Linked DNA regions of Homo sapiens. The protein of the gene in region 7 purifies or fractionates together with the protein of the main gene of each other region. This does not show direct contact. Each region holds a gene or a part of one and is shown on either strand. Other genes may lie near its edges.

Region 1 (3,500 bases), on a different chromosome or scaffold from region 7:
AGGCAAAGGTTGTAGTGAGCCGAGATCACACCACTGCTATGCTCTAGCCTGGGCAACAAGCGAAACTCCGTCTCAAAAAAAAAAAAAGAAAAAATAGTGCCGATGTATTTTGTTTTGGGGAGAAGGCACTTTAACATATCAGTTCAGTGCTCTGGAGGCAGCTGCTGAGGTTCACATCTGGTTACATTTTGGGCAAGTGACTGAACTTCTTCAATCCTCAATTTCCTCTTCTATAAACGGGGAATAATAATATATACCTCATAGGAATCTGTGTGGGTTTGGTGGGATAATGAATGGAAAGCACAGTACCGTCAGTGCCTGGCTCCTAGGGAGCATTCAGTAACTGGTGACTGTCATTAGTAACGTTGTCTCACCTACCTTACTGCTGAACTTGGGGCTTTTCTCAGCACCATGGATCACCCGTGTCCGCACAAGAGTTGAGCACCCCACCCCAGAGCAGAACCAGCATGGTCTGACTCTTTCACACTCCGTCCTACGGAAGCCCATCTTCAGGGCCCATGGAACTTACTAGTAAAATGCAGAGAATCATAGCAACTCAAGAGTATTATTGTGAGGACAAGATAAGGTGGAATGTATGTGAAAGGGTTTTATGAACTGTAAAGTAGTATACAAAAGTAAAGCATTTTTGTTGATTTTATTTTAACCTTTTATGCTTTTAAGTTTTATTTCGCTGTTTTTTATTTCCCCTTTTTTTTTTTTTTTTTTTGAGATGGAATCTCACTCTGTCGCCAGGCTGGAGTGTAGTGGCGCAATCTTGGCTCACTGCAACCTCTGCCTCCCAGGTTCAAGCAATTTTTCTGCCTCAGCCTCCCGAGTAGCTGAGACTACAGGTGCGCACCACTACACCCAGCTAATTTTTGTATTTTTAGTAGAGACGGGGTTTCGCCATGTTGGCCAGGATGGTCTCCATCTCTTGACCTCGTGATCCTCCCACCTTGGCCTCCCAAAGTACTGGGATTACAGGCGTGAGCCACTGCGCCCAGCCTATTTCCCTTTTTTTAAAGACAGGGTCTCATTCTGTCACCCAGGCTGCACTGCAGTGGTGTGATCATAGCTCACTATATCCTCCAACTCCTGGGCTCAAGCCACCCTCCTGCCTCAGCCTCAGGTGCTGCCACACCCAGCTAATTATTTTTTTTTATTTTAATTTTTTGTAGAGACAGGATCTCACTTTGTTGCCCAGGCTTATCTCATAGCCCTGGGCTCAAGCAATCCTCCTGCTTCAGCCTGGAATTACAGGCATGAGCCACCGTGCCTGGCCTGTATTTCTTTTTTAATGCTTTTTTAAACCTGTTCTTTCCCCGCTTTTTTTAAACTTCTTTTTATTTATTTTTTTAAATGGCTGTTTTTCCTAATAGGACATATTCTCACCACCCAGGAATCCTAGCATGTACATAGATTTAATTGATGAGGGGAGATGGCAGTGTTCCCAGACCATCTGTGAAGGGTCCGAGTTTTCTGCTTCTATATTTACAGGCCCCTAATTGCTAAGAAGAATCCTAAGATCCCAATGTCTAAGATGATGACCATCCTTGGGGCCAAATGGAGAGAGTTCAGTGCCAACAACCCCTTCAAGGGGTCAGCAGCTGCTGTGGCGGCGGCAGCGGCAGCAGCAGCAGCAGCTGTAGCTGAGCAGGTGTCAGCTGCTGTCTCGTCGGCCACCCCCATAGCACCCTCCGGACCCCCCGCCCTTCCACCACCCCCTGCTGCTGATATCCAGCCCCCACCCATCCGAAGAGCCAAAACCAAAGAGGGCAAAGGTAGGGAACTCTCTTCCAACAACTGTCATCTCACCTTCCAAACTGCATGTCTTCACATTAGAGTCTGGAACTCTCGCCTTCCCAGCCCTGATTGCTGGAGGAGAGATGCTTTCCAGGAAGTGGGGCTTAGTGAAACCACAGCCCACAGAGGAATCCAGAGGCCCCTGTGACCTCCATAATTCCAGGATGTCATGACCTCTCCTTTTTCCTCTTCTCACCCCGACTCCTCATTCAGGTCCAGGCCATAAGAGGCGGAGTAAGAGCCCCCGAGTGCCTGATGGACGCAAGAAGCTTCGGGGAAAGAAAATGGCACCACTCAAAATAAAACTAGGGCTTCTGGGTGGCAAGAGGAAGAAAGGAGGCTCGGTGAGTGACCCGTCCCTGTCTACTAAACACCTGGGGGCCAAGGATCCAGAGACAGGGATCCGTGAGGGCCAAGGATCCAGAGACAGGGATCCGTGAGGGATGGCGGAACAGGAAGCCAAAGGCCTGGGGAGGGCGTAGAATGAAGTCTGCCTCACTGACGGCCACGGGGCTATGGGCAGTATGTTTTTCAGAGCGACGAAGGTCCTGAACCAGAGGCTGAGGAATCAGACCTGGACAGTGGCAGTGTCCACAGTGCCTCAGGCCGGCCTGATGGCCCTGTCCGCACCAAGAAACTAAAGAGAGGCCGGCCAGGAAGGAAGAAGAAGAAGGGTAAGGAGTGTTGACTGTGTGTGATCCTGTCAGTGGGCCGTCCTCTCATTCTTATTTTCAATTTTGACTTCTCTCTTCAACCCTTCTCCCTCTCTCTCTCCATCTCCCCCTGCCCTGCTTCCTTATCCCTCCACCGGGGTATATGACAGTCCTGGGCTGTCCTGCAGTGGCCGGGGAGGAGGAGGTTGATGGCTACGAGACGGATCACCAGGATTACTGTGAGGTGTGCCAGCAGGGTGGGGAAATTATTCTGTGTGACACCTGCCCTCGTGCCTACCACCTCGTCTGCCTTGATCCTGAGCTTGACCGGGCTCCAGAGGGCAAATGGAGCTGCCCTCACTGTGTGAGTACCTAATGCCAGCATCTGATGGCCCTGAGGAACCCACCCATCTCTTTCCCCCTTGGTTTCACTTACCCTCTTCCTGCCCCCAGATGGCTGGACTTCTTAGTAACAGATGTCCGAGTGTCTAGGATCCTAATGTATTCCTTTCTCCCACAATCAACATTTCTGAAACTGGAGTGTCCTTTTCCTTAGTTCCCACCAGTCTTCTCTGCACTTCTAGGATTCAGGTGTCCTGTCTTTGCCTGTATCTTCCAGTTTCATTCCTTAATTTCTTCCATCTGTCTGTGTGTCTATCCTTGGCCCCCTAGGAGAAGGAGGGGGTCCAGTGGGAGGCCAAGGAGGAAGAAGAAGAATACGAAGAGGAGGGAGAGGAAGAAGGGGAGAAGGAGGAGGAGGATGATCACATGGAGTACTGCCGCGTATGCAAGGACGGCGGGGAGCTCCTGTGCTGTGACGCGTGCATCTCCTCCTACCACATTCATTGTCTAAACCCTCCCCTGCCTGACATTCCCAATGGTGAATGGCTGTGTCCCCGATGCACAGTGAGTGGAAACATCTCCCCTCTGTATTTACTGTCAGGCCTGATCCCTTCCCCCATCCCTGGGGCCCACATGTCCAGCTTTTCATTTCTCTGCACTCCCCCACCCTTGTGGGACCCCTATCTTCTCATCTAACAATGG
Region 2 (3,407 bases), on a different chromosome or scaffold from region 7:
GACGGAGGTGTGGGACTGACAAGGAGGCCCAAGGGGGCCTGGAGCCCTTGGAAACAGGAAGGACATCCTCTGTCTCCTTGGTCGCATTCCACTCGCATCTGGGGGAAGCGGACAATCCCACCCCAAAAGACCTGCAGTGCTGGGGCAGAGCTTTGCAGCCTGTCTAGTTGATAAGACCCAGGAAGCCAGCTTTGCACTCCGTGGGCCAGATCAACTTCAAAATTCAAGAACGAGAAAGTAAAAAGCCACAGTGTATAGTGAAGAGCTCGTATGGATGCCGCTGGCTCACCCAAACAGCAGCAGACAGGACACCCAGGCCAACGGGAAAACCCAGTCTCATAAGGTCCCTGACAGTGACACCCAGGACTCCAAAGCCCTATGATGTTTCCAAGGACAAGATTTAAGGCTGTGTCAGAAATATCTAAGCTTCAGGAATTCCTGTCCCCTCCTCCCTTACCAAAGACCTTTCAAAATACCCACTCCTCTATGACACCAAAGACTTTTTAATATATAAATTAACTGCTTTATTGAATATCAATAAACTGTACATATAACTATACAAAACGTTTCCTTGATACAAAATGTTTGAAATATAAATACCAGTGTACCTTTAAAAATGTAAACATCTTCCTCCCAGGCCCACCTGTCGGGCCCCCAGAATAGTTCTGGGAGACACATCGGTCAGACCAGAGCACCCCACTTGGGCCCCCGACAAGTGACAGCCATTACTCACAGTCCCTTTTCAGACATTGTTAAATTGCCCGGGAAACAGGTGCCACCCCACCAAACAGGAGGCTGAAATAGCTGCCTGGGCTCGGGGCATCTCAGACTCTAGTCTGCCACCGCCTCCGCAGGCCCTGGGGCTGCACCTGGGGGTGGATTATTGCATAGTTAGTCACACCTCGTGGAGGGTGGCCTGAGGGTTCCTTGTGGGGGGGTGTGTGTGAGGGGAGTGGGGTCCCCTGAGTGGGGTGGGAGCTTCCCAGTGAGTCTGTCAGCCTTTGTCCTGTAGCTCAAAGCAGCTGTATCCAAACAGCTCTGGATACAAAAACCCACGCAGACAGGCCAGCTCAGGAATCCCCCAGGGCTGGGGGCCAGCTGCCCTCCCTCCACAGAAATGGCCATGGGAAGGCCTCTTCCAGAGCCCAGGCAGAGGACACAGAACCAGAAAATGGTCTTCATCAAAGTCCTGTGGGGCTGATGTGGCCAGAAGTGGGGCACTCAGGAGGGAATTCCATGGCAGTGAGAAGGATGTGGGGTCCTTCCTGCTGGAGCTGGGGAAGGCTGTCAGGCAGGGGCAGGTATGGAGAGGAAGAGGGAGCCTCGAGGGTCAGCGGGGACATCCTGAGCAGCCGGACTCTTGGTGCTTGTGGAGCAGGGACATTCGGGAGAAGGTCCGAGCACACGCCTGGCACTGGTACTTCTTGACATCTGAGTGGGTCTGGAGGTGGGCCCGCAGGTTGGAGCGGTCAGCGAAGGCACGGCTGCAGTGGGGACAGGAGAAGGGCTTCTCGCCTGGGGAGAGAACGCCAGAAAGGCCGAGTGAGCCGTGGGACAACGGCTGGCAGTGATGGGAATCCCTCCCCGCATACCCCAAACCCTGAAAGAATCCCATGATCCCAGGAAAGCCAGGCCTCCGTCAAACACACAGCCAGGGTCCAAAGGCCGGGACCTGACGGAGCTCTGCTGCTTCCCACTGTGCAACTCTGAGCAAGTTGTCTGGCTTCTCTGAGCCTCCATTTTCCCACCTGTAAAATGGGGCTATTCACCCCCCACTCATAGGGGTTGATAAGTGACAGAAGGTAGGGTACTCATCCACATCCCGCAGGGACGTGCGAAGTGGTCAACAATGACTCAACACCTTTACTGATTCATCCTACTGTCACTTGATCCTACTGTGGTCTCATTTCAGAGACAGTGAAACTGAGGCCCAGAAGTAGCATGTTCAGGTTCCCCTGGCAGGACCCCAAAGCCTCTGATTTCACCTACTGCCCTTACTGCCTTCAGTCAAGGGAGGACGTGACTGGTGTCCTTACCATCAGTCCTGGAGTCATTCCTTGATTTACTCTGTTGGGGGCCAAAGCCAGAGTCAGCCTTAAGAGGCTTCCCCACCCCCACCTCCAAGCTGGTTAGGCCACTCCTGGGGCCCGGCCAGCAGCCTGCTTTCCTCACCACCCCACCTCCTGCGCTGTAATCCCAAATCTCCTTGTCTGTTCTCCAATCAGGCTGAGTCCCATAAGGGCAAGGGCCTCCTTTGAGTCCCTTCTGAGCCCCAGCCCAGGGCCTGGGCCCCTTTCTATCACCCAAGAGGCTACGGAAACCTGTGGCCCTGACACACCATCTGCCTGGCCAAGGCTGTGTTGGGAAAAGTCTTGCACATGGAGCTGGGTGCCCAGTAAATCCTCAACAAGCCCTTAGAGAATAAATAAGTCTGTTTTAAAAATTAAAGAGGCCTCAGAGGAGTCTGCCCCCTCACTCATGCCTCATAACAATCCCTGCTCCAACCAAAAAGCTATATAGTTCCAAAAACACCAATAATGTTGATTTGTTTTTTTCTGGGGGATGCAGCATTTTCCAAATAAAAGGTCATAACAGTAACCCATTAAACAAAAATCTATTGAGGCTGGGTGTGGTGGCTCACGCTTGTAATCCCATCACTCTGGGAGGCCGAGTGAGGCAGGATTGCTTGAAGCCAGGAGTTTGAGACAAGCCTAGGCGATAAAGCAAGACCCTGTCTATAATTTTTTTTTTAATCTACTGAGCTCCTACTAAGTGCTAGACACTATTCCATAATACTGAATAGTCTTTTTAAAAAACATGCAATTCTCCAATCCCCTCACGCCCAGTCTGATATGCCCGCAAGGTCAGGGCCCGCCTGTGAAATCCCAGCGCTGGATGGAATTTAAGAGCTGAGAGTGAATTCATTCCATCACCTCCTGGGTGCCTAGGGTGCCACACTGAGCTACCAGGGTAGGAGAGAGTCCAGAGGATGGCTCCAATGGGACCCATGCATTCAATAGGGACTTATGGAGCGCCTGAGAGCTGGACTCAGTCTCATGGGGCAGAAATGGAAACTCGCCACTCCAAAGGGTGGGGGACATAGAGGATTGGGGGAGGGGTGCCTGAGCACTACTCCACTCTGCCATTACTCAGCAGCCTCCACACGCCACGCCTGAAGGGTTTGTTGATTGCATTCTAAGTCTTCATGTGAATGAGAAGGGTAAGTTCACCCTTGTGAACTAAGGGCTGACTCTGGAGATCTGGAAAAGGGGCTGGAGTCCATTTGTAAGACCAGAGTTAGGACAGCACCTCCCTTCCCTTCCCAGGGCTGTTGGTGAAGTCCTGAGCACTACCCTCCTGTACAGTAAGTGCCCAAAGTGTGATGAGACCTGAACCCAAACAAAAGG
Region 3 (3,500 bases), on a different chromosome or scaffold from region 7:
TGCATCATTAATGAAGATTACTTCTGCCAATTTTTTTTAATGGATGAATAGAACTTTGCAGTGTAGAAGTTGTTTTTTGTTGCTTGTGACATATGAATGTCAGGATAAATATATTTGCAAGAATAACATTTATTACTAGTTTAGGAATCAGACTGTAGTTAGAGTATTCAATTTAGGCTGCGAGATAAAGTTTTTGTAATATTCCAGAAGGTGGAAATCAGGGTGACTAATTCTGATTTCTTTGTAGACATTTGTGTGGTAGCACAGTAGATACTGTAGTTTTATGACAAAAGGGGAACTTTTCCCCACATTTTATACTATTTAGTTTGGTTTCATGGTTATTACAGAAAAAGAGAAACAGATTGGCTTGTATTAAATGTAGTTTTCTTTTAGGATGATGAAGATAATCTTGTGTTCTAATCTTGGCAACAACCATACAGTTTATATATATGGGTTAAATACGTTGTTATCCCCATAGTATCTAATATCATTTTATCAGTTTTTCTGTTAGCTTAGATGACAGCTGTTTAAGTTTCTAGGAAGTTTGGGGTGAGAATGTATTATTTAAGATGTGTTTTGGTCAGAAATTGGTCTATAATGGTATGTTTACTATTTTCGAAGACCAATTCTATTTAATTATTTCTTTCTACCAGGAAATATTTGATGATGCGTCACCTGGAAAGCAAAAGGAAATCCAAGAACCAGATCCTACCTATGAAGAAAAAATGGTATGTTCTAGGCTTGTGAATAGAGTCTATAAGGAAAACTTTTTATCAGGTGATTAAATGTACTAAACATCTATCTTAGTCCATTTTGTGTTACAACAATACCACAGACTGGGTAATTTATAAAGAAACGAAATTTATTTCTTAGAGTTCTGGAGGCTGGCAAGTCCAAGGTCAAGGCCAGCATTTGTTGAGGGCCTTCTTGCAGTGTCATTATATGGAGGAAGGCCAAGAGAAGAGAGCAAGACAGGACTGAACTTTCTTTTATAACAAGCTCACTGGTGATAACCTCCTCCTGAGATACTGACAGTAATCTTTTCCTAATCACCTCTTATTAGGCCCTACCTCCCAACACTGTTGCGTTGGGGATTAAATTACAACATGGGAGATTTGGAGGGGGACACAGTCAAACCATAGCAATGTCTGTTTAATTTTTGTAATTATGGCACAGATATCCATTTGAAATATGTGTAATATGGAATACTATAACTTCCATATCTTATGTGTCTATGTAAGCCAAATGGAAGTATTATATGAATTAACATAATATGATGTCATTATCTAGTTATGTTAACAACACCTTTAAAAATTTAACCTTGGAAGCGAGGTGAAGACCAGAATAGTTACTCAGTGTATGTTTATTCTGCACTTGACTAGCATTGTACTCTGCTAGTTACCAAAAAAAGAAATATGCTCCTTGTTCACAGCATTTTTATATTATAGATGGGGTCTTTACAAAAAGAACATGACATTATATTGGAGTCATTCAAGTCCCAGTTCACGTTCCGTATCTTCTAAGAAACTTCTCAAAACTATGACTTGACTTAAACAGTACCTACACAGAGCTTTAAATTTAAATTCAGTTTTAGTAATAGTAGTAGTGGCTAACAGTGAATGTTTACTCCGTATCTGACCCTGTTAGGAATGCTTTATATGGATTAAACTCATTTAATTGTATTGAAATCTCAAAAAGTTAAAATAACAATGTATTAAATAAGAATACCACTACACAGTGTGCTCCTGTAGGGTAAAAACAGTGTCTTAATCTTTCTTTCTGTCTTCAGTACCCAGAACAGTATCTGGCACATAGCAGATCTTACATATTTTTTAAAACATACTTTTTTCTTGTCCTTTGACTTTCTCTTCCAAATCAGTAAATATTTTTGAATGTCTTAAATAGCTTCAAAATCTTAAAATTATGGTATGTATTTTATGTGCATGTATAATATGCACAATACATATAACACTATGTAAATTATAAATGATATATCTTTAGGTTTGATTTGTTATATATTTTACATATGTATATATGTAACTGTCACCTTTTTTGCTATCAAACTTAGAGAAAAAATAGATTTGCCGCTCTGTTTTTTTAAAGTGAATACTACTTTGAATACAGTCTACATATTTTAATACTGCTTTAACCCTTTATAGTTTAGATTCTGACACACTCTGCTGGTGAATCTAATTGCCAATTCTGAGGCTTAGTTTTAGTTTCTTGATTTGTGCTTGACATTGTTGACCATTCCTCAAAAATCTTGACTTGCCTTGAAAGACATTTTTTCCCGTGATAATATCCTCTTTGCTTTTTTATTCCTTTGTCCTTCCTTATTAAAATTTGAACATTTCTTCCTAGACAGTTTGATTCTTACTGGTTTTTACCTGGTATCTTTAAACTGAATATTTTCAAATACTTAACCTCTAGCCCAGAAGCCTGTAATCCGTATTTTCATTTACTTTAAAATCCTATTCATACCTCTTACTTGAGAATATCCAAAACTGAATTCATAATTTTTACTTAGCATACCTTAGTGTTACCTCAATGAATGAAAGTTCCTCTTCAGGTATACTCAAGATGTTCATGACAGTACTGCATACTTGTAAACAATAAGTTTACTTACGAGTTTATTCTCTTTTCCATATCACCCTAGTTTAGTATTTTTCTATTATTGCATGGATTATTTTGTGCTTCTGTATTTGCCTCCTTTCTTATGATCTGGCCCCTTCCAAGTTTCTTAACATTTTTGCAAAGTGTTATTTATAACACAAATTTGACTGTGAAATGGAGGTTTTTCAGTGGCTCTCTACAATGCTTTTCATTTTCTTAGTGGCCTTTATTGGAACTCTTTTCGTTTCTTCCAGGTTTTTCAGTCTCCCAGCATTATTTCCTTTTTTGACATCATGATCTTCACCTGCACAGTTTTCTTCTAAGCAAGAAGCTCCCTTGTCATCTGCTAGTTCTAACCATAGATAAGTTCACTATCCACTCCTCGTTCTTGAACCCAGAATGCTGAGTACTACTTCAGAAAACTAAATACTAGTGCTGATTGGTGCCAGTATAAGTTTATGGTTTTTATTTTCTTGGACCTTGAGTATTTATTGCCTATCAGTCTCATTTAGCCATTCTAAAATGTCCCCACTCTGATCAGTCTTTCTTCTCCATTTCTACCATGCCCTCATTTCCAATCTTCCTCCACAAAGAATTGCAGGCCTGTCTTTATTTTCTTTCTCTTTTCAAACATATGTATAGCCTCTATTATCCTACCTCATTTCTTCCTGTTTCAGAGAAAGAAGCTAGTCCAAAGCTATTCACTTTAATTTCCGTTTGATTTTATAATTGATTTCTTTCAGGTTCCTAATCATACTCTCTTGTTTCTGCTTTTTAGGTTCTGTTGGTTTTTCTCCCTCAAGACATTTCAGTTTTAACCTTTTCATTCTTTCAAGCAGTTTATCTTGATTCCAAACATAATTACAATAATTATTTTTTCAGTCCAA
Region 4 (3,500 bases), on a different chromosome or scaffold from region 7:
ACAAATGGATGACTTACTACGAATTTTTAAAACTACCAAATCAATTTAAACTAGATGAGGAGTTAGAACAAGAGCAAGGAGGTAACAATATAATGATAATTCTAAAAATCTACTTCAAGTTTTTCTATTTTAAGATAACTAAACCACTAATATGTCACACACAAAAACAAAACTTAACATTTCCAGACCAATGTATTACATCACTCAACACATTATTAGCTGCAGCAAAAACAAGTAGAGCAAACACTTAGGAGGAGGTGAGGTACAGCTGCTTGGGCAAGCTTAAAAAGACGTTATCATTGGTGAACGAGGAGGAATAAATCTGTCAATGGTAGGCACAGGAACTCAAAACAACAAAGCAATGTGGGGCCGTTGAGTACAGGGGAAAACGATTTTACAATGGGTCAAAGCCCCTAAAGAAATTACCATGCCATAGACAGACGTACTAAAATACAATATAGGAAAAACCAAACTATAATAAGCAAACTACTCTAGGAAAATTAGGAAGTATTAAATACATTTTCAAAATATGTGCCTCAAAAGTAGTTGACGCTTTTAAACTGTGCTTAGAAGTTTCAATTACCAGGAAAATTTACTAAGAAACCACATTCCCTAGAAATGCCAGAGGAAAAAAGTATTTTTGTATATACCATACTTACATTTTCACTAAGAACATTTTACGTTTTACTTGTATTCAAATGCAGGTATTTTTAAAAAACAACTTACCCAGAGGGCAAAAAAATAAAATAAAATAAAATAAAATTACATTAAATCGACAAGCACTTACCTGAACATTTTTTTGGCCAATTTCTTATTTAACACAATTTATTCATCAATATCAGCAATGTTGCTCTGGGCTACCAGTTCATAATAATAGTTTTATTGTAAAACAACTGCTTAGTTAGCACTTACGGGGGAAAAAAAAAAAAATCACTGACCTGAATTCCATGTTAGTGGAAAATAGTAGTCCAAATGAAATACATGCAAAAGATTTCAGAGCAATCCTCAAGCAACAAAGTAAAAATAATAATACTGAGATCTAAAGATATTTGTCAAAGTAACTACAAGATTAAATGATAAATTCTAGTTGTAATAAATGATAGCACTCTCCAAGCTGCTTTAAAACATAATTCCACAACAAAGATAGAAAATGAAAACGTACAATAATTGCACTTACGATGTAGGAAGCAGTCATATTTAAAACATCGCCTACAGAAAAGCGTATGAAAGGAGTGTAAGCTTTGCTCTCTCTGAACAGATTTAGCATTTGGTCCATCTATGTTGGGGGTACATTCAGGAGGAAGTGCGCCTGGGAGCTGCTGTTCGGTGAGTTCTTTATATCTGACATTAACCAAGAAAAATTTAAGTAAACATGAAACAAAAATCACTTTTTTGAAAACAGTTTCTAAAAGGTTTCCATGTGTTACTTTTGATGTTTATCTTGCCTAAAACATAAAGGAATGGCTCTATTTAGATAAAGAGCCAACTAAATATTGTGCATGGTGTTATCAAGAATCAAATTCATCGATATGATTCAAATATATCATGGAAAAGGATATTATATTAGTTTTAACTAAACATCAAATTTCTACCAGTATCCAGATAATTTTCCTGTAAATGTACTACTGTAAATTTTATGTATATGTGTGTGTTTATGTGTATATATAAATTATACATATGTATTTATTCTATCTACAGGAAATATTTTGTAATGCAGAGTACCACAAGTACACATGTTGCTTCAAGTATCTTGCAAACACTGTAAACAAAGTGTAGTGGCTCATCCGCTACATTGATTCCATTTGTAATAAACCAAAATGGTGAGTTACATACCATACAGGGCAAGATTGCCTCAAAGGAACAAATTCTTACTTTTCCTTTAGTTCTTCTGCTGTGCCCTTATCTGGAAACATTGAGGAAATGGCTTCAAAAATTTTATCAGAAGGAAATTTCCGAGGTGGGCGGCTTTCTTTATCTAAACAGGAGAATATGAAAGGAAAAAAAGAATGGAAGTAAACAAGTTTTTGATCTTTCATTTTCTCTACCCAATTATGTCTCTATAACAAAGCTGATTTTCTAAGAAATCATCTCTATTTTGTGTTTTACTTACTTCTCACATACTTTACATGTCTGTGGAATGCCAGTCAGTCAAAAACAAAATTCAAATTCAAATATGAAAAGCTTTAAGAGCACTGGGAAGCAGAAAACCTAGGTTCTACTCCCAGCTCTGCTACTAACTGATTTTGTGACTTAGAGTGATCACTTTACCTCTTGGGTCTGTTTACTCATCTGTAAAATGAAGGAGCTGAACTAGATGATCAATAAGGTCAATAAGGTACCTTTTTGTTATTTTCTCTTTTTTGAAATACGCTTCTTAGAAATTGCTATTTCACCCGCCAAATTATTCTATTCTATGCTGCCTTAGCATGAGCTTTGCCAAGTAGAGAACACCAACTATTGACTCTGTTTCTTCCCAATAGTGTAATCTTATAAGTTACTTAACCTCTCTAAATCTATCCCCTCAAATAGAAAATGGATCTGACAGGTGGGGCGCAGTGGCTCACGCCTGTAATCCTAGCACTTTGGGAGGCCGAGGCAGGTGGATCACGAGGTCAGGAGATAGAGACCATCCTGGCTAACACGGTGAAACCCCGTCTCTACTAAAAAATACAAAAAATTAGCTGGGTGTGGTGGCAGGTGCCTATAGTCCCAGCTACTCGGGAGGCTGAGGCAGGAGAATGGCGTGAACCCAGGAGGCGAAGCTTGCAGTAAGCTGAGATGGGGCCACTGTACTCTAGCCTGGGCGACAGAGCGAGACTCCGTCTCGAAAAAGAAAATGGATCTGATAATAACATCCATCTCATGAAGCCATTATGAGGATTAAGTGAGCTGGTGCATAAGAAGTGATTAGTACACAACTTGTACACGGTGAATATCAATGTTATATATTATAATGATGCCCAGTGAAGCACACAAAAAATTACGTTCTTTGCTAGCCAAAGGAAACAAAGATACTCAAGTGAAGATAATGTTGCAAGTATTATGCTTTTTTTTTTCTTTTTTAAGGCAAGGTCTCACTCTGTCACCCAGCCAGACTGTGCAGTGGCACAATCACAGCTCAATGCAGCCTACACCTCCTGGGCTCAAGCAATCACCCTGTCTCATTTTTTTACTTTTTAGTAGAGATGGGGTCTCACTATGTTGCCCAGGTTGGTCTTGAACTCCTGGGCTCAAGCAATCTGCCCACCTTAGCCTCCCAAGTGCTAGGATTACAGAGTTAGCCACCCTACCTGGCCATAATATGTTAATTTTGATTATACTGCTATCAATGTGATATTTAACAAAGAAAGAAAAAGAGAAAGAAGAAACTAAGCCCTATTTCTACTCTTTCTACTGTTTTTGAAAGAAAGCTGTAATGGCTACACAGAATCCTAATAATCAGGCATACCATCTCGGTGATCCTCCAGATCTTTCTGCTTTTCTTCTCTTTCTTCAGGATC
Region 5 (3,500 bases), on a different chromosome or scaffold from region 7:
CAGGTTCCACATCCGTGACCAAACACAGACTGAAAATACAGTATTCTGCCTGTAATCCCAGCACTTTGGGAGGCTAAGGTAGGCGTATCTTCAGCCCAGGAGTTCAAGACCAGCCTGGGCAACATGGTGACACCCTGTCTCTACTAAAAATGTAAAAATTAGCCAGGCACAGTGGCATATACCTGTAATCCCAGCTACTTGGGAGGCTGAGGTAGGAAGATTGCTTGAGCTTGGGAGATGGAGGCTGCAATGAGCCGTGATTGCACCACTGCACTGCAGCCTGGTCTACAAAGCAAGTCCTTATCTCAAAAAAAATGAAAATAAAAAATTATTTGAGGATGTGAAATCTGTGTAGAAGGCTGACTGTAGGGGTGTGGAACTTGAGTATGCATAGACTTTGGTATCCATCCACAGGTGGTCCTGGAACCAATCCCCTAGAATACTGAGGATAACTCTAGTTGCAGTTACTAGTTTAATGAAGCTAATAAAACCATCTTTACCTTTCTTCGACAGTTAACTTAGATTTGGTTGAATCTCTGTTGTCATGATTGATTGCTTTGTGTATAGTATGTATATGTTCATCCTCGAGAGTGACATTTCGCGGATGTCTGTGCCTGCTCTGTGCATATTAAGTTTATATTTGGGTTCATTTTCAAAAGGAATATTTGTGGGCCATGTGCAGTGGCTCACGCCTGTAATCCCAGCACTTTAGGAGGCTGACATGGGCAGATCACCTGAGGTCAGGAGTTCAAGACCAGACTGGCCAACATGGTGAAACCCCCTCTCTACTAAAAATACAAAATTAGTTGGGCATGGTGGCACATGCCTGTAATCCCAGCTGCTGGGGAGGCTGAGGCAGGAGAATCGCTTGAACCCGGGAGGCGGAGGTTGCAGTGAACTGAGATAGCGCCATTGCACTCCAGCCTGGGCAACAAGAGTGAAATTCCATCTCAAAAAAAAAAAAGAAAAATATTTGTGAAGCCATAAGGTTTAGAACTGAAACATAGAATTTCATATAAAATATTATTTTATCCCAAATCACTTGCAGTACTTAGAAGAACACTGTGTCAGGGCTTGGCTATTATAGTCCCCTGGGGGACAGAAATACTTCAAAAATTCTTTTTCTTTAATTTGAATTCCAAAAAGTAGATGCTTGTATTCTAGGCTTTCTTATCACAGTTAACATCTTAGTTTTGTATGTGTTCTTTTCAAAGCTTTTATCCAGTGTGATATTACAAAGTAGATCATGTGTCAGAGTAATTTTTAATTTGGAAAAATACCTTTTAATGTTTAGTAAACCTAACTCAAAATGATTTGGTTAATTAGGTGCCAGTTCCTGTTTTTCTGCCTGCTCCATTGGACAGCAGTGAGAAGATTCCTGCAGCAATTGAGGAGCTAAAAAGCAAGGTTTCTTCAGATGCTCTTGATACAGAGTTGCTTACAATGACGGATATGATGAGTGAAGACGAGGGGAAAACAGAGACAACCAACATCAACAGTGAGCTACACTAAATTATACCTTGCGAATAAGTGTTAACATTGGTTATTTATAAGTATTGTTACAGTACTTTCCAGGGCATATCATTTTGTTTCAACTTATGTGGGGGTGAGGAAAGCATTGTAACAAAAATGTTTTTTATATTAAGAGATCTACACTGTATTTAGCCAGGTGCCCTCAGACAGATATCCGAAGCAGGAATTTGGTCTTTGGTCTCTGTTTTAAGCAGGATTTGACTTGTAAAATCAACTCAAAATTATTCTTGTTAATGGAGTAGTGCTGATGCAAAACTATAATAACTTGTAGTAGACTCTAATGATGATCAAAACTCTTATTTTGTAATAGTTATCCCTAGTTTTTTGTTTTGTTTTGTTTTTTTTTTTAGATGAACTCTTGCTCTGTTGCCCAGGGTGGAGTGTAGTAGCATGATCCCGGTTCACTGAGATCTCTGCCTCCTGGGTTCAAGCTATGCTTCTGCCTCAGCCTCCTGAGTAGCTGGAATTACAGGCACGTGCCACCACGCCCAGCCAATTTTTGTCTTTTTAGTAGAGACAGGGCTTCCCTATGTTGGCCAGGCTGATCTCAAACTCCTGACCTCAGGTGATCCACCTGCTTCCCAAAGTGCTGGTATTACAGGTGTGAGCTACCACACCCAGCCCCTAGTTTTCTTTTATTGCTTATACTAATAAAATAATTTGCATTATCTAAACCAGAGTTTATCTTAACCTCTGTTAGGGCAGTGCTTGCGCTACATGGTATAACGTGATGAGTGTGTTGTGGATGGTTCTAAGTCACTTAGAATATTTATTTTCCACCCTTAACCCTCTCTTGATACCCAAAGTCCTATTTCAACCTTGAGCTAATTCTTACCCTTACCCTAGAGGACAATCAAAATACTATAATTTTCTCTGGATTTAATAATGAGACAGTGTTTTTGAAGCACTGTGGTAAGGAGTTGTGAAATTAGTGGGTTGCAACCAGTGTTTTTGTTTAAGAAAAGAAAAAGCTAAGTGGAATAGGGTAAGAGAAATGACAGTGTGAATCCCTCATAGAAAGGGTAAGTATTATTTTGTGAAACCAGTGTGTATACAGATGTCTTTCTGTTCCCCACCATCACCTTGCAGTATGTGCTGGATAAAATGCATTTCTTGCCATGATTACAACACAAAAACACTTGAAAGCAACTGATCGAACCATTAAAAGGCAGTTGTTAATATGCATATATTGAACAATCTGAGAAACCTGGGTCAAAATTCAAAGAGTATTGAAAACTACAGTTGTCTACCCTCATTAGTTTATTTTTGACAAAAAGTTGCTTTTAGAAATACTTTACTTGTTGAAGTTGTTTTACTATCAAAGCATACCTATTAGCTTTTGAAGGGAGTCCTCCTGTAAAATTTATAGGATTAAAAGTTTTCATGTGCTTGTGACTAATTATGAGGTTTATAGTGGTTTACATTTTGAGATAGTTATATATATAATATGCCCTTTTCTTTTGTGACATTATACGTATTTTTTTATATTGCATTTAAAATTAAATGACTTGCTTTTGCCAGATTAAATACAGATACCATTGGGGTTTTCTGTTTTGATTCCTAATGATAATATGGATTGATTTCAGGTGTAATTATTGAAACAGATATAATTGGTTCAGACCTTTTGAAGAACTCTGACCCAGAGACACAGTCCAGCATGCCTGATGTACCATATGAACCAGATTTGGATATCGAAATAGATTTTCCCAGAGGTACTCAAAACCTTTATGACTATGGAATTTAGTTATGGAGTCAACTGTGGTTATGATCATTTACCATTTGATGTTTGTGTCATTGCCTTTTAGCAGTGTTCATATTTTTTATTCTTGTTATTTTTTAAACTCACCTTAAGAGTTAACTTCATATTTTGTTGTTGTTTTTTTTTAAAAACCCACCTTAACAGTTAACTTCTGGAATGAGATCACTTGAGTCCAGGAGTTCAAGACCAGCCTGGGCAATGTGGTGAA
Region 6 (3,269 bases), on a different chromosome or scaffold from region 7:
TTTCTTGTGCATGGCAACTGCCTTTTACTGAATTCTGATTCTTGGTTAAGTCATCTCAGTTAAATTACTAAAAGTAGCTCCAAAGTTCGCAGCATTATCTAGTTAGTCATTCTCCTAATACTTTCATAGCAAAAGTTGAACTTAAATAGAACCCAGGGCCAGGCGCAGTGGCTCATGCCTGTAATCGCAGCACTTTGGGAGGCCAAGGCGGGCAGATCACTTGAAGTCAGGAGTTCAAGACCAGCCTGGCCAACATGGTGAAACCCTTCTCTACTAAAAATACAAAAAAATTAGCCGGGCGTGGTGGTGCATGCCTGTAGTCCCAGCTACTTGGAAGGCTGAGGCAGGAGAATCGCTTGAACCTGGGAGGTAGAGGTTGCAGTGAGCCAAGATCGTGCCGCTGCACTCCAGCCTGGGCGACAGAGTGAGACTGTCTCAAAAACAACAACAACAAATAGAACCCATTGCATTTCTAGGTCAGTTTGGTTCTATGTATTACGCTTTTTTAAAGAAAGAATTTTCTAAACTGTATTCAGTTTTGATCTTAATCATTTAAAAAATGTTGTTTTCCTTAGGTCTTGGTGGATGTCAGTGCTTACTCCCCATGAAATTAAATTTTACTTCATCCTTTGAGAAGCGAATGGTGAAAGCTACTGAAATAAGCTGTGATTGTACTGTACATAAAACATATGAGGAATCTGCAAGGAACACTACAGTTGTGTAAAGTTGTTCTGTTAACTTTTGTACCAAATAGCAATACAAACTAGTTGGAACAGTTGGAACTTACATACATGGGGACTGGAAATCTCTATTTTGTCCCTGAATAATATTTTTCTTAGAATTGACCAAATAAGAAGTGGAATTTTTGCATACTTGAGCGCTGCTGAAAAGAAATCATTTGGGTTGGGTGGGGCGGGATGGGGGAAAAGTATATAATGCTTGCACCTCAGGTAAAAATCTGTAAATATCTAAGTTGTAAACCTGCTTGTTCAAATACTGTGTGTATTCCTTTTCTCTAATGCAGCTCATCACTTGGAGCAGTTTCTGCTATTGTGCTCTTTCATTTAAAATGTATGTTTTTTTTTTTTTAAACTGTCAATGATTTTGTATTATGTTGAATCCACCCAAATCTATTGTTGTCTTAAAATTGTTAATGGAAGTATTGACCCTCTATGATATGTGCTGCAGATATCGAGGTCAGCCATTCGGAAGCTGGCAGCATTTTATCGCAACTTTGAGCATCTCAGATGGGGAAGGCACCTTCTTCCTCGCCTCTCCAGATTGTCCTGGAACCTCCAGGATCCTTGACTGAGGGCGTTGGGATGGCTTGTAGGATTTTTAAGAGAGTGTGTCTACAGACAAGCATTTTCTCTGTAGAGCAGCCACACGTTGTATAAACATAAACTGTATGTGCAGTTATTTAAATTTGTTTCTGTCAAATTAATCATTTTTGTTGGACGATTCAGTGGCGGGGGGGTTTTGCCTAAATTAGTATATAAAAACAAAAATGCTAAATTATATCTGTGAATTGCAGGTATTGGGGAACAGTTTTAAGGGAAATTTTGGGGGGAACATTTTAGGTTTGTATTTGGTAGTCTTAATGTATCTGGCATTTGGGTGAACTGTGGACATACTAGAGTTGATTATAGACACATTGATTTTGAATAAGGAACTGCTGGCCGAGCCCGCTGGGAGTCTAGAAAGAGAAAATCTGTTTCTAGACCTCAGTTATTTTCCCATTTTTGGTTGTTTTGAAGCAGTAACATTTTTCTCAGTGCACATGCAATTTGGGTTTTAGAGAAGATGGCCACCAGCTGGCTTCCTAGATATTTTAAACTTTTGTTCTTTAATATGCTGTCCATGGCTGAGTTTATTAGTACATGGGCTTAGTGACCACAAAATATTTTATTAAGAAACTGTTTCAAAAATAAATTTGCACTGTTCATTTTTCTGGCCTCGCTGTTCTCCATAGAGCAAGGGTAATCCTAGAAAAAATTTTTTTTTTTTAAATTATGCAACGTAAGATGTCCTCCTTGATAGAAGTCTTAGCTCCTGTGTTACAAGGGAGAACTCATTTGAGATCAGTCTGTTGGCATTGCAATGAAGTGCTTTGTATCAGGAAAGTGTACACTATTGACCTTTTTTCCTGTTCACAAGCTGAGCCATATGTACATAATCTAGATTTTGTTTTCATAGTTTTGCACTTTTATAGCCTATTTTTGAAGATTAACACATTTGCAAGATGATTGACTCAATCTTTGCCTAATCCAATGAGTGTTACAGAGAGCTTGCTGTGACTAGAACCATAAATCTTAAAGGGGGTATGTGATAATAGAGGGCTGGAATTTAAACCTGTATTTAAAAAAAAGAATCACCAAATCTATTTGAAAACAAGTCGATTTGTATTATGCTGGAATTTTTTGGGCTTTCAGATTTCTCTTTTTAACCACATTTCTGAATGTATAAAAATACCAATTATTTTCCTACAGCCCTTTGTACTTCAAAATATGTTTTTGTGTCCATCAGTATTAACTATTGGTATACTACTGGTTTTATATTTTTTTTTCTTTGAGACAACAGTACATATAATAGAGGTACAATTCGTTGGATTTTTGTTTATGTATTTATTTCATTCCAGTTTGATTTATTTTAATTGTTGATACTTAAGTTGTCGAACAGTAGACATTACTTGTTTTATTTATGATATATTTCAGCTTAAAGTTATGTTATTATATGTGGAAGTGTAAATATAGATTTGGTGTTTTGCAATCTTGAGTTTTAGTGTTTATTGTGTTTCTGGTTTCTGATTTTGTTTTATTTAACTTTTTAGTTTTCTTTCTTTTTTTTTTTTTTGAGATGTGCTCCTGCTCTGTCACTCAGGCTGGAGTGCAGTGGTGCAATCACAGCTCACTGCAGCCTTGAACCCCTGGGCTCAACTGATCCTCCAGCTCTCGGCCTCCCGAGTATCGAGCCATCATGCCTGGCTTATAAACACAATTTTAAGGCCAGCACGTGGCTCACGCCTGTAATCCCAGCCCTTTGGAAGGCCAAGGCGGGTGGATCACTTGAAACCAAGAGTTTGAGACCAGCCTGGCCAACATGGCGAAACCCCGTCTTTACTAAAAATACAAAAATTAGCTGAGTGTGGTGGTGCACACCTGTGGCCCCAGCTACTCAAGAGGCTAAGGCATGAGAAATCACTTGAACCCGGGAGGCAAAGGTTGCAGTGAGCTGAGATTGCGCCAGTGCACTCCAGCCTGGGCAACAGA
Region 7 (3,500 bases):
TCAAATTTTAAAATCATTAGGCATGTTACCCTTTACGTTTAAATGTGGTAACTAACTGCTTAGTGCATTTGTATGAGTATGCTGTAATGATTATAAAACCTGTGACTGTTTTTGTCAAAATTTATTAAAATATTCTGTGCAGTTCGAGCATCAGACAAGCGGATAGCTTGTGATGAAGAATTCTCAGATTCTGAGGATGAAGGAGAAGGAGGTCGAAGAAATGTGGCTGATCATAAGAAAGGAGCAAAGAAAGCTAGAATTGAAGAAGATAAGAAAGAAACAGAGGACAAAAAAACAGGTCAGATTTGTTTCTTGGTAATTGTGTTTTAATTGTAAATTTTAAAAATTGGGCTGCATTATAATGTTTATGCTATCGAGAAGTCAGTTGCACAGGTATCAGGAGGAAGTATGCTAGGTAGGTGACTCTTTTTTCTTACATATAAGTGGTACTTAGCTCTTAAAGCTTTTATATAAATGTTATTGTTCCTATTTGCTTTAGTAATACAGGAAACCTTATTTTCTTGATAACATAGGTTTAAAATAGTGAACATTGCATTGTGATATAGATTGGTTAAGAAAGAGGACAAAGTAATTATGAATCTATTGGTAGTGCATGGTCAGAACTGAACTTCTAAGGTAATTTTTAGCTACCTAAAGCTTATTTAATGGGAGAAAACACAAAGAAGAGTTACATATCCTTAGACCAGTTTTGCCATTTTGAAAAAGGTCAAATAATGGATTTTGTTCAGAAATTGAAGAAAACATTAAAAACTCTGAGGAAAGCTAGGAGGGGATTTGGGACCTGGGTTAGGGAGGAAAAAATACTTTGATACATTGCCTTACTTTAAAACGCTGTGTTAGCTTTAGGCAATTGAATTTGCTACCGGAATCTGTTACCTTTCATCTGACTTCCCAGAACACTTACACATGCCTCTGCCATTTTATTTAACACATCATATTATAGCACCTCACAGGATTTTGTCTCCCTACTAGACTGAGCTGCTCATGGCTAGGGAACACAGTATCTTAAATATTTGTATTCTCAGCACTTGATGCATTTCCTAATGCAAGTAATGGTGATGAGCACACGTTTTAGTTAACCTGTTAATTTTGATCCTGTAGTATGTGAAAAACTGATTTAGAGATAATGATCCAATTTTTCCTATGTCTATCAAATTGAAGTTATGTGAATAAGCCAGCTTTTTTTTTTTTTTTTAAACTAGAGAGTTAGTAATCTATAACATCTGACACATTTAGTTCTGTTCTTTTACTTGTGGATTCACTCCTCAATAGGCTACATACAGAAATTTATAATTTTAACTTCCCAATGTATTACAATGATGGCTTCAGTCTATATTTGTAACTGATTGACATCCAAAAATTCAAGCCATGACTGAATTAAGGACGACTTAACTTTAGCTGTAGGATTTTCCTAACTTTTTTTCTTTTCTTTCATTTTCACTATGTTTTCTTGTCTGTCTGTTTTTGGTGTTCTCATTTTTAAAAGCTTTATCTTTTCTGTGCTTAAAAAATAAACTCTCTATTTGGTGATGAGGCTCTTTCGATAGGGCCTTGCAGTTGTTAAAATTCTTCAGCCTACTGAAAAATGAAATACTACCACAGAAAGCTTTTTTTAAATCTATAGGTCAAAACCTAGAGTTAGGGCCACCTTTTCTCCCTCTGCACCCCAATCCAGTGACTATTCATAGCTTGTACTGCCATCGTTTAGGAAACACCCAACACAAAGCTTATTTAGACCGAATTCATTAATAATAAGATTGCATAACTTTTTATATTTTAAAAATAAAGTATATTTTGAAATAATATATATACATTTTATATTTCAAAATAGGTTTTAATCTTTTCCCAATCTTTATTTTTAGACGTTAAGGAAGAAGATAAATCCAAGGACAACAGTGGTGAAAAAACAGATACCAAAGGGTAAATGATGTTCCTTATCAAGTACTTTTTACATACTATAAAAATACTAAACATGTTTATTGGTGTGTGTTTGTGTACACACTTCAGAAATACTAGACTGAACCTTAGAACATCATTATGAGGTGCTCTGAATTTTAGTTTGTATTGGTACATAAGACAACATATGCCATCTTACCTATTGGTTTATCAGTATAACTATATCAGTCAGTTTGTATTCTTGTACGTAGTTTATCTGAGACCCTTTTTTGCTGTTATCTTTTATATATGCACTTAATGGTTTTCATGGTGTTCTTATTTCTGTGTACATGATTTTTTTAGTGTTGTGAGATAGGTAAATTTAAGAAACAATTTTAAGTAAAAACAGTTGAGGATTTTAGTGTCAGAAAGCATGTAAATGTTTGGGCACACATAATTTTGTGCCAGCCTTTACAGGATAACTTGGAATAGTTTATTAAATCACTAGAAAAATTAAGGCATTAATTACTCCAGAAACACTTAAGACATTATCAATTAATGTGTTTCTTAGCATGAGCCTACAGGACCTGATCAATATAATAGGTCAGTGCATTTAAACCAAGATTGTGCCATTTTTAATATTTCACATTGCCTCTTTTAACAGAACCAAATCAGAACAGCTCAGCAACCCCTGAATTTGACAGTCTCACCAATTTCAGAAAATCATTAAAAAGAAAATATTGAAAGGAAAATGTTTTCTTTTTGAAGACTTCTGGCTTCATTTTATACTACTTTGGCATGGACTGTATTTATTTTCAAATGGCTTTTTCGTTTTTGTTTTTCTTGGCAAGTTTTATTGTGAGTTTTTCTAATTATGAAGCAAAATTTCTTTTCTCCACCATGCTTTATGTGATAGTATTTAAAATTGATGTGAGTTATTATGTCAAAAAAACTGATCTATTAAAGAAGTAATTGGCCTTTCTGAGCTGATTTTTCCATCTTTTGTAATTATCTTTATTAAAAAATTGTACTTGGATTATCTTTTGTCTGTTTATTACTACAATATGAAGTCTTGTTTCAGTGGCTAATGACATCATTTCTGTAGACTTACAATACACTCTAGGTGAAAGATAATGATTACAGCTTGAAAGATAACTATTTGCTGTTTCTTTGGGAAGAGTATTTATAGTAATTATTACTTATCTTTGCAATAGAAATTCTACCACCTTGCCCTCTATAGCTTAGCCAGTTAGTATCAGTGAAGATTAACATCCCATTACAATTTATGAAATAATACAGACTCTGCAATTGAGATGTAGGAGTTCTTTGAGTTGACCCAAAGATTCTCAAAATTGAAATGGAAATTCTGAATTGAAAGAAGAAACTGACCAGAACTTGTATTGACCAGACTTGCCTATAGTATATTGCTGGTTTAAAATGGAACCTGCAGACAAAACCTGTTTCTTTTACTGCATTTACATGGCATCCAGGTTCCATTATTATTTACGTGACATCCAGGTTTCTAACTCAAGGAAATAAACACAACTGATTTATCATTCAGCAACTACTTATTGTGTGTCTGCCCATTTTAAGACTGTAGGAGT

What was found.
Region 1: the proteins of HDAC2 (region 7) and CHD3 purify together in Homo sapiens (affinity purification with mass spectrometry; 12 studies listed by BioGRID and IntAct, with this or other methods). This does not show direct contact.
Region 2: the proteins of HDAC2 (region 7) and SNAI1 purify together in Homo sapiens (affinity purification with western blotting; 5 studies listed by BioGRID and IntAct, with this or other methods). This does not show direct contact.
Region 3: the proteins of HDAC2 (region 7) and SMARCA5 fractionate together in Homo sapiens (co-fractionation; 5 studies listed by BioGRID, with this or other methods). This does not show direct contact.
Region 4: the proteins of HDAC2 (region 7) and EZH2 purify together in Homo sapiens (affinity purification with western blotting; 5 studies listed by BioGRID, with this or other methods). This does not show direct contact.
Region 5: the proteins of HDAC2 (region 7) and ZMYM2 purify together in Homo sapiens (affinity purification with mass spectrometry; 7 studies listed by BioGRID and IntAct, with this or other methods). This does not show direct contact.
Region 6: the proteins of HDAC2 (region 7) and ZNF217 purify together in Homo sapiens (affinity purification with mass spectrometry; 6 studies listed by BioGRID and IntAct, with this or other methods). This does not show direct contact.

The regions. Positions count from the first base shown.
Region 1 is NC_000017.11:7,891,789-7,895,288, forward strand, and holds part of CHD3 (chromodomain-helicase-DNA-binding protein 3), read left to right. Parts: intron 1-1,497; coding exon 1,498-1,781; intron 1,782-2,016; coding exon 2,017-2,147; intron 2,148-2,326; coding exon 2,327-2,477; intron 2,478-2,626; coding exon 2,627-2,820; intron 2,821-3,128; coding exon 3,129-3,362; intron 3,363-3,500.
Region 2 is NC_000020.11:49,985,980-49,989,386, reverse strand, and holds the end of SNAI1 (zinc finger protein SNAI1), read right to left. Parts: intron 1,516-3,407; coding exon 1,331-1,515; 3' UTR 501-1,330; downstream 1-500. UniProt on the Homo sapiens protein: Involved in induction of the epithelial to mesenchymal transition (EMT), formation and maintenance of embryonic mesoderm, growth arrest, survival and cell migration.
Region 3 is NC_000004.12:143,516,702-143,520,201, forward strand, and holds part of SMARCA5 (SWI/SNF-related matrix-associated actin-dependent regulator of chromatin subfamily A member 5), read left to right. Parts: intron 1-653; coding exon 654-728; intron 729-3,500. UniProt on the Homo sapiens protein: ATPase that possesses intrinsic ATP-dependent nucleosome-remodeling activity.
Region 4 is NC_000007.14:148,825,292-148,828,791, forward strand, and holds part of EZH2 (histone-lysine N-methyltransferase EZH2), read right to left. Parts: coding exon 3,449-3,500; intron 1,976-3,448; coding exon 1,873-1,975; intron 1,342-1,872; coding exon 1,163-1,341; intron 1-1,162. UniProt on the Homo sapiens protein: Polycomb group (PcG) protein. Catalytic subunit of the PRC2/EED-EZH2 complex, which methylates 'Lys-9' (H3K9me) and 'Lys-27' (H3K27me) of histone H3, leading to transcriptional repression of the affected target gene.
Region 5 is NC_000013.11:20,059,727-20,063,226, forward strand, and holds part of ZMYM2 (zinc finger MYM-type protein 2), read left to right. Parts: intron 1-1,326; coding exon 1,327-1,498; intron 1,499-3,119; coding exon 3,120-3,245; intron 3,246-3,500. UniProt on the Homo sapiens protein: Involved in the negative regulation of transcription.
Region 6 is NC_000020.11:53,566,571-53,569,839, reverse strand, and holds the end of ZNF217 (zinc finger protein 217), read left to right. Parts: intron 1-575; coding exon of another isoform or gene 576-724; 3' UTR 725-2,769; downstream 2,770-3,269.
Region 7 is NC_000006.12:113,940,149-113,943,648, reverse strand, and holds part of HDAC2 (histone deacetylase 2), read left to right. Parts: intron 1-142; coding exon 143-298; intron 299-1,883; coding exon 1,884-1,941; intron 1,942-2,560; coding exon 2,561-2,591; 3' UTR 2,592-3,500. UniProt on the Homo sapiens protein: Histone deacetylase that catalyzes the deacetylation of lysine residues on the N-terminal part of the core histones (H2A, H2B, H3 and H4).